Homo sapiens: one gene and its partner. The protein of the gene in region 2 purifies or fractionates together with the protein of the main gene of each other region. This does not show direct contact. Each region holds a gene or a part of one and is shown on either strand. Other genes may lie near its edges.

Region 1 (4,064 bases), on a different chromosome or scaffold from region 2:
AACTTTGAAATGGTGAAATTATCCTGAATTTTATCATGGTGAACCCAATCTAAGCAAGAATTCTTAGAAGCAGATAACCTTTCATGGTTGGGTCAGAGAGAGAGATATGACAATGGAAGAAAGTTCAGAGAGGATGAGAGAAGGGTTAGAAAGAGATGTACATGAAGGGACTGGACTTGACTGGCCATTGCTGGCTTTGCAGGTGGATAAAGGGGGTCAAAAGGCAAGTTCTATGACCTCAAGGAACTGAACCTAAATGGATTCTCTCTGACGGCCACCAGAAAGAAATACAACCCTGCTGATAATTTGAATTTAGCCCATTAAGACCTTTCTGACCTACAAAACTGTAAGATAATAAATTTGTAATGCTTAAGTCACTAAATTCATGTAATTTTAAAGGGCAACAATAGAAAACATATATATCACAAAATCAAGAAATCCTACTTGTGGGTATTTCATCTAGAGAAATGAATACTTATGTTCACACAAAAACCAATACGTGGATGTTGATAGCAGCTTTATTCATAATCACCAAAGCCTAGAAACAACCCAAATGACTTTCAGTGGGTGAATGGCTAAAGAAACTGTGGTATATCCATACAATGAACTATAACCCAGTAATAAAAACAAACTACTGATACACACAACGATCTGGATGAATCTCAAAGGCATTATGCTGGGTGAAAGAAGCCTGTCTCAGAATGTTACATAATACATGATTATTTATATGATATTCTCGAAAAGGCAAAACTACAGTTACGGAGAATAGAGCAGTAATTGCCAGGAGTTGGGGTGGGGAAGGGTGTGTTATAAAAGCATAGCAGGAGAGCACTTGAAATGATAAAACTGTTCTGTATCTTGATTACGGTTGTGGTCAAATAACTAGACATGTGTTAAAAATTCATAGAACTCTGCACTCCCCCAAAAGTCACTTTTTTCTGCATTAAAAAATAATAAACTTTAACTATAACAACTCAATGACAAAACAAGGCAAAACAATGAAACAAATCTCATTGCTGACACAGCTTTCTGGGAATTTCCAATCCTAGAGAATGAATGTATCACATACATGGTTGGGGAAGGAGACACAGTTACTTCTCTTTCCTTTGTGCCCTGGAAGCCCCTCAACATCTTTCTAGAAGTAGAAGGTGCTCCAGCAGGGGTTTTGGAAACTTATCTCAGTCTTTTCCTTTTCCAGTAAAAGGAGGAGCTGGCTTAGATAACCTCTACAGTCCTTCACAGCAGGTAACTAGAACTCAGCTCAGTCCTTGTGTAGGTGCAGGGTGACCTACCTGTCCTGGCTTGCCCAGAGCTGAGGGAGTTCCCAGGATTTGGGACCTTCAGTTTACAAATCAGGAGTTAGTTACTCTAACATGACTCAGGGAAGTCACATAACTCATCCGAGCCTTAGTTTTTTCTCATATGCAAATTAGAAATAATGCTTGCCCTATCTCACCAAGTTATTACGAGATGCAAACTTTAAACTGTAACTTCTATGTAAATGTGAGTTGGTGGGATTATTACTAACTTTTAGAAGAAATGACTTAGGGACAGTCTTCAAATTTGGAAAAATAAAAGTATTATTAAAGGAAGTTATGCAGTTGAAATATGTGTGTGTATCTGACTGCAGCATTGTTCAGTTTGCAGTTTCAGTTTTGAGGCTATAAGAATATATGCATCCAAGAAAGTAACTTTTGTTTTTCATAATCTGCTGAAGTTTTAGTTACCTGCATTCCAGGACAGGCTATGGCAGTGAACCTTGGCTACACATTGAAATCACCTAGAATCCTTAAAACACAGGTGCCAGGGTCCTATTCTCAGAGAGTCAGGGTTAATGGGTCTGGGGTTTGGCTAGGCTTTGTAAATTTTAAAATCTCTCCAGGTGTTTCTAATGTGCTACCAAGAGCCTCTTAATATACCAGACCTGGTCATCGCCCACATGGGCTTGCACCTTTAAGATGGTGCCACTTGGAAGTTTGTTCTTACTACTAACCCAGATGAGTCAAACCTTACCTACAGTTGAGTGAGCTCCCTCCACAAGAAAAAAGTCTTAGATATGCCTCTAAGTGAGAGGACTTCTGATCTCAATAGGGCAATAACTCACATCTACAAAGAATGACCAACAGTGGGACCAGTCACTCAGGGTAATGACACTATAATTATTGCTGTTTTTATTATCCAAAGGAGGACAGTTCTGGATTGGGGGATGTATTAGTTTGCTAAGACTGCCAAAATAAAGCACACTAACTGAGTGGCTTAAGCAACAGAAATGTATTGTCTCACAGTTTGGAGGCTAGAAGTCCAAGGTCAAGGTGTCAGCTGGGCACCGCTCCCTCTGAAGGCCCCAGGGGCGGGGGAGGGAGGGTTCCATTCTAGGCCTCTCTCCTAGCATCTCCTAGGTAGTTCCCTGGCTTATGGCAACAGTGCCAATTTTAGGACTTCAACATACAAATTTTGGGGGGACACAGTTCAACCCGTAACATGAGAGCAGTCAGTTTCCATGTACATGGCACCATGTATCTTATTCAGGTGTACTCTAAAATACCATGATGGGGTATGGTCAAAACGGACTGGAATCTGGCCTAGGCTTCAATGGGGAGGTATTCCCTGGTCAGCAAGGAAAAGCTACAGAAGGTTAATTCACAGATTATTCCTTATAGATAAATCAATAATCTTGGCTGATGTTAGATGTTTTAAAAACTCAGCCTTAAGCAAAATAAGAATTAAAGGAGTTAGTAAGTTCCCCCTCAATAAGAATATCTAAGCAAAATCTTGATGAGCTATTGGCCAGGGGTGCTTTGGAAGGATTCTTTCATTTGAAAGGTGGTTGGACTAGAGGAACTTACAAATTCACCTCAATTCTAGGATTTTGTGCTTCTTGCAAAGACTATTCAGAGGCACACCTGATGTTTTGTGGTAGAGTTCTGCACCAGGCACTATATCCAAAAGAAGGACACTTTAGACATGGCTCTAAGTCCAAAGAGTTAATGTGAAAATCCTAATGATGCATCAACTCTGCTAAAATCCATTGCTGGTTTTACTGCACAAAAGTTTTCAAGGCAGAAAAAAATAGGTCCAGGATCTTTGACAATGGCAAGATAAAGACGGTAAACTTAGATGTCCTGCAGGACTGCTCAACCAATGATACTGCTCTGAGATAAGTTGACATCCATAATCACAGAATTGGCCCCAGTCTTTCTCTGTCATGAAACTTGGCCCTCCCCAGACAATGAAAACATAAATATCACATCTGTGACAACTCTAGCATTTCTAGCAGGAAAAACAAATCCTGAAAAAGCATCAAATGCAGTGAATCTGACCACACAATGGTAAAATAGTTATTTCAATAAAGATTTTCATTTCAAAAAATGAATTTTTTTGTTGTTTCCACAATAATCAATTTAGTTATTGACAATGCAGGTCAGGCCTCATTCATGGCCATAACATAATCTCTGATCTTTCCAGTCCCTACAACACTACAAATTTTCACAGGATTATACATAGAATTCTAAAGCAAAATAATCCTAGAAAATATAAGTGGAAATAAAAATATATAATCAAATCAGATACACTTTTTTCATACACAATAAATCATTAGCATTTTTTCTTATAAAGGACAGGCTCACTGTAGAGTAGTATGCAGAAAAATATAATAAATAAAATAGATATCACAAATAATGTCATCTAATTTTTTTTCAGATCTTCTATGGTGTTTATATATACAATACTGTTGGTTTTATATTGTATACAGATCTGTTTCCTGTTATTACCACTTGATGTTATTATTGTGATACTTTCTTGGTATCATTAAACATTAGTAAACATTTTCTATCATGTTAGATACCATATTTTATTTAGACATTCCCCTGTTTTCAGGAATTTAGGCAATCATTTCTATTTTAAATCATGCTTTAATAAGCCTTTTAAGCATTTTTTTATTTTGGTCTAAACTTGGGGTCATTTGTGAGGATAAATTCACAGAAGAAGAAATTTTTAAGGCCTTTGATAGATGTTCCAAGACTGCTTTCCAGAATGTTTGTGGTGATTTATAGATGTCCTAAGAA
Region 2 (5,966 bases):
TATGGACTCTCTATAAGATGGTGGGGCCTCTGGGTGGGAGTCATTTCCATCCTGGAATTCCAGGCCCGTCTCTGTATATAGAGGTGGAGGAATGCCAGAGGCCTCTCTCTCTGCAGGACAGCTCTGCTTTTCCACCTCAAGGCTCTCTTCATAAGCTGGAGGGTAAAAGTCTGGCCTAGGGGACAAAACAGCATAAACATGCGTGCGTTATTTAGGCATTAATGCCAAAGAGGCAGACGGCTGCCTCTCTCAGCTCAAATTGTGCGAAGCTAAACTGTTAAGAAACATGGATTTTTGAAACAGATGTACTTCTTCCTGGCATCACCAGTTTTTTAAAAATGTGCTGCTCTTCCAAAAGAACCTTTTTATCAGCCACAGGATGCCTGCCTCTAGTCACATTTTTTTCCCAGTGGGTTATGCCAAGCTATTCCTTCTCTATTGCTCATTCACTCATGAAAACAGGGCCATTCAGTGTGAGATCCTTGTCAACATTAGAGGAGGTGGGGGCTTTGGATAGGGAACTTCTCTCTACCGAGTACTTAGTCCATCCACATCCTTGCTCCCTTTCTCGCATGGCATCATCCCCTCAATTGCACTCACTTTCTCTGATCATCACAGCCAACAAAATAATGAATGAAAACCAACTCTGTGCTGATCCCTGAACTATACCAGATGCCATGTCTCTATCCTAACACCCTTTCGAGACTCAGTAGCTAGTTTCAAAGAAAATATACAAACATATTCATTTCTCAAATGATATCAACTGACAACTTTACACAGATTTCAGTTGTAGCCCTTTCTATGCCAGTAGGCTAAAGCAGCCATTCATTCGGGGGCTGATGTACTCATTGGTCATCTTGCCTGGCATTTCTAATTGCTAAATCCTCCTGGCTTCTCCATCATGAATGAATTTGGGGGAAGGGGAGAGGGGAGGAAGAGAGACCGGTGAGCTTGGCTGAGTTGTGTATTTATAGAGTGATCCTTCCAGTGCCTACAGGGAGTGTTTATGGTGTGTAACCACAACAGAACAGGGACTGCCATTTGTAGCCACAACTCCATTCCAAATGTTACCAGGCCCAAAGCCAGTAGCTGAAGAAGCTGTCTACTATAAGGCATAAATCTCAGCCTTCGCTCAGAATAGCCAAGGCTGAGTCACGGGGCACATGTGTAAAGGCATTTTACACAGAAAGGTGAGATGTTCCCTGGAGTGATGTGAAAGGTTCCAGGATGACTGCTGCCTGCCCCAAATCCCAGCTACCTCTCCCAACCCCACCCTCCTTCAACTGCCATCCATATTCCCAGTCCCCTGAATTCCATCATCGGAGACCCATTTGCTTTGATATCTCAACCTGGGTATCCATTTTGAGTGCAAATGCTTTGGAGAAATGTGACTTCCCAGGCTGACTTGCCAGCCATTCTGCGTGGGATAAGCATCTTATTACATGCAGCGAGAAGAGGCAGTAAAATGGGGGTGTTACGATGTCCATAATTTACTTTCAAACATTTCAGTATACTGTAATATTATGCAGTGTTAGTCAATTTAAGCTATATCCTAAAGGCAATCAGTTACATTTATCAGAAATTCACACTCTAGAGGTAGTCCTCTAACATTTATACAAAAAGAAATCATCACTCTAGAGGCATCTTCTACAATCACTTCATTTCTCTTAATTTTTAATCAAACCCAGAAACTCTGCTGGTTAGTATAACATTGGAAATAAGTTTTGGTTTTCATAATTATTATCTTATTAATTAGCATAAAGGATGCCAAAAGTGGATGCTCATGGGTAAGATTACTTATATTCAAGATACATGGAGTAGCTAAAATATTTTAGATACTTTCTACTCTTGCACGAAGAGGGCAAAATAATTATAGTCTTGTAGCCTGTATCTTGAGAATGATGCCTAGGGTGTTATCCCTAAATGGTCCTGTGGCTAGCCAAGAATTAGGAGGTTTCTTGTTGCCTGATACTGACTATAAGATTAACTGAATCTTTTTTTTCTTGTGGTAAAATATATATGACATAAAATTTACTGTTTTTAAGTGTATAGCTCAGTGGCACTAAATACACTCATATTGCTCTACAACCATCACCTTAAAACTCTCTACTCATTAAACAATAGGTCCCCAGTCTCTCCTTCCACCAGCCCCTGGGACCACTGTTCTACTTTCTGTGTCTGTGAATTTGACTACGCTAAGTACTCATGTAAGTGGAATTATACAATATTTGCCCTTTGTAACTGACTTGTTTCACTTAGCATAATGTTTTCAACTTCATCCAAGTGGTGGCATGTGCCAGGATTTCCTTCCTTTTTAAGGCTAATATTCCATTGCATGTATATACCACATTTTGTTTATCTACTCACCTGTTGATGGACATTTGGGCTATTATGAATAAATGTTGCTACAAGCATTGGTGTACAAACATCCATTTGAATCCCTGCTTTCAGTTCCTTTGTGTATAAACTCAGAATGTAGAATTGCCAGATCAAACAGTAATTCAATATTTAATGTATAGAGGAGTCTCCACACTGTTTTCCACAGTGGTTGCACCATTTTAACATTCCCACCAGCAATGCACAGCGTTCCAATTTATTGACATCCTCACCAACACTAGCTGTTTGGTTTTGTTTTTTGATGATAACTATCCTAATGTATGAGATGGCGAGAAAGAATGAATCTTGCCTCTAGAATATTATCACCTTCCCCTGAAGGAATGTTTTATGCAAGGTGAGATCACAACACCTAAAAGGACAGTAAACTGGGACTTTTCTGAGCTCACAGAGATTCCAGGACTCATTTTATGCCTGCTTCTTCATTTGTTGTGTGGCAGAATTTGGTCTGGGACTTGCTTTCCTTAGAACCTCATAGCCAGGTTATGGGAAGTAACTAACCATCACCTGCCACTAATTAATGACAGCTGCCATGATATAACAAAAGAGCCTGGGTTTCTAAATTGGCTTAGGTGGGTTTTCACTGGGGGTGGTGGTAGGGTTTCTCTGAGATGAGTTGCCCCTGCGTCATGGTTTTCCCCAAAGATGGCGCCACTCTTCCTAATAACAACCCCAGAGTAATTCCCTGACAATAAAGCTTTGGTTCTAGACAGACAGCCCATGGGACATGTAAGTCGCTCCATAGTAGGATCAGAAATTACTCAGATCTTACACAACTCAGCCCATCTCAGCCCTTCTTGGTCCCTCTGCCTGTCAGCACGTACCTGTCTACTGTGGCCACGGGCAGGGCCCCATGAGCAAGGTGTTGTCGGAGCATGTGCCTCAACACTCCTTTGCTTTCAGTCACCTGGCGATAGTTGCTCCAGAAAATTCCACTCAGAAGGATCACAAACCCCAGAGGCAGAAGCAAATAGGCCGCAATCAGGCTCCCCTGACAGTCGAATATGGAGCCCCAGGAAATGAAGAAGGCCCCCAGGCAGACCATCAGGAAACCCATCAGGAGGGCAAGAGCACAGAGAATGAGGCCAGTTCTGTTCTGCATCCTTGCACCTTAGGAACCCAGCACCCTGACCCTGCTGCTCCTCTGCTTCCCTGCTTGCTCCAAGAGAATGAGCTCATTAGCCAGCTTGCAGCTTTATATGCTCTGGGACCCACTGGCCTTTGGACAACTAAATGAAACAGGCACTTAGAAGCTATTCATTAACCATTGAAAGTAAGTGTAATATCCTTGGAGAATTAGCCAAAAAACATAGCATTGTATACTGCAGGCAGGAGTGGCTTCGTGTAGCTGTTTTGTTCTTCAGAGTTGGGTGGGACACTCAGCTGTTCCCAGTTATTTGAACGTACAGCCCTCCTTTGATTAAAAGGCGCTGGTCTCTTAATCCCCATGGAGGGCAATTCCCCACTAAAAGCTGGAGAAGTTAGCACTCTTTAAAGAACGATCTTCTTTGAGGTTTGGTAAGAAATCCCTTCCTGATTCCTTCTCCCTTTTTCTGTACTAAAAAGGCATTTCTTCAAGGCTGTTAACATGTTTGTCTTGCCTCCCTCAATGAATCCCCACTTATTGCCCCCACACTATGATACTGGCATAATTCCAAGACAGAAGTTCAGAGTGTGAACTTCGTGGTTCCTGCTCTGTTGACAAGATCGAAAGAGCCTGAGTGGGAGGGAAAGGAGAGTGCTGGAGAAAAGGACTATAATAGACAGAGCCTCGGGAATTTGGGGGGATTTTGGGCCTGTAATTCCTGCAATCTTTCCCCCTTTCATAAAGTACATATGAAATAGAATTCGTTTTAGAGGATGCTGCTAAAAATGTTCCCTGTCCTCTCCTCCACACCTCTGCTCTATGTAGCATTGCCTCAAAAAATCTTTCCAGAACCAGCCTTCTGTTTCCTGGCTGGAATTTGTTTTCTTTAGCTTGACTGTCTTTGATTGTGGATAGCTTATTTCAGACGTGCTTTATGCCCTGGCTCTGCCCTTTTTTATTTGATAATGTGGCATGTCTCTGCCAAAAGTCTCCTTCCCATAGGAACCCTGGGTTGCTTTTACTCAGGATAGCTTATCTTCAGTTCCTCTTTGCTGCTGTTCCACTCCACTACTCCATTACCATTATTTTCCATTTACTTTCCCAATGAGAGCAGCAGTTTTTTGTGGCGTGCCCTAATAATCCCTCATATAACCTTTAGTCTCACACTCACCATCTCCTTAGCTCTACCTTCATGTTAGGGCTGGGAGACACGGATATTAGAGAGGTACACACTATGGATCAAAAACTATATAAGGCACTTCTCCATTCCAACCCTTAGCCTTTACCTTTCTTAGCTTCAATTTCGACCTTGAACTACCTTGATCTTCTAGTCTTGATATTGTCTTTGTAATCTTAAAACAGCTCTTATTCCCTCCTTCCCCAAACTGTGAGATGGAATATTTCTAAGATGATCCCTAAGGATCCCACCTCCTGATATTCATGTCCTTGTGTAAGTAATCCTCTCCCCTGAGTGTAGGCTGGACCTAGTGACTTCATTCTAATCAATAGAATATGGTAACGGTGATCGGAAGTTACTTCCGTGGAGGCTACACAAGATTGTGGTTTTCATCTTTCTAGCAGACTCTCTCTATTGTCCTCTTGGCTTACGCCCTTTGAAGAAGGAAGCTGCCATATTGGAGAGGCCCATGAGGCAAGGAATTGAGGGCAGGTTCTGGCCAACAGTCACTGAAGAACTGAGGCCCTTAGTCCGTCAGCCCATGAGGAACTGCATCCTGTCAATGACCACGTGAGCTTGCAATCAAATCCTCATCCCACTGAGCCTTGAGATGACTCTGCTCCCAAGCATCACCTTGACTCAGTGACCCTGAAGTAGAGGACCCAGGTAAGTCATACTCGGATTCCTGACCCACAGAAACTGTGAGATAAAACGTTTCAGCCAGGGTCCTGGATGCCACAAGATGGCAAGAGCCATAATCAATGAATGCATTATGATCAAATCATTTCATGTTTATGGATGTCACTATTTTAACAAATAAAAGAGGTCAAAAGTTTAAAAAAAGTATATTTTAAAAATATGCTAAGTTTTGTGGCCATTTTTTAGATAGCAGTAGATAACTAAAAAAATTCTCTTAGAACTTTGAAAATCAGAAGAGACAATCAATGTTAAGTATTTATCATAGTACCTGGCACAGAGAGTGCCCTGTGAAGGTTATCTATAATCACCATCACCAATATTGTTATTATCATTGCTGTTACAATTCCAAAAATCTGTGGAAGACCCAGGACCCCCAGCTGAAAGGTCTGCACTAGGAGTTGGGTCCCAGGAACAGGTAGATGGTAAAGCCCCAGGATAATGTTAAGAATCAGGTGATGGAGGAAGAGTACTCTCAATCGGAACTGCCCATCAGACAGTTGGGCTTCTCTGTTTTAGACAAAAATGGAGGCAGAAATTAGACTGGGGATTATGACAGGTCAGGCCTCATTCTTGTGATCACATCAACACATGAGTAAATAAGTTTCTCTA

The links.
Region 1: the proteins of TMEM252 (region 2) and STXBP4 purify together in Homo sapiens (affinity purification with mass spectrometry; one large-scale study listed by BioGRID and IntAct). This does not show direct contact.

What each region holds. Positions count from the first base shown.
Region 1 is NC_000017.11:55,170,069-55,174,132, reverse strand, and holds the end of STXBP4 (syntaxin-binding protein 4), read right to left. Parts: 3' UTR 501-4,064; downstream 1-500. UniProt on the Homo sapiens protein: Plays a role in the translocation of transport vesicles from the cytoplasm to the plasma membrane. Inhibits the translocation of SLC2A4 from intracellular vesicles to the plasma membrane by STX4A binding and preventing the interaction between STX4A and VAMP2.
Region 2 is NC_000009.12:68,537,319-68,543,284, forward strand, and holds the start of TMEM252 (transmembrane protein 252), read right to left. Parts: upstream 3,566-5,966; 5' UTR 3,497-3,565; coding exon 3,219-3,496; intron 176-3,218; coding exon 1-175.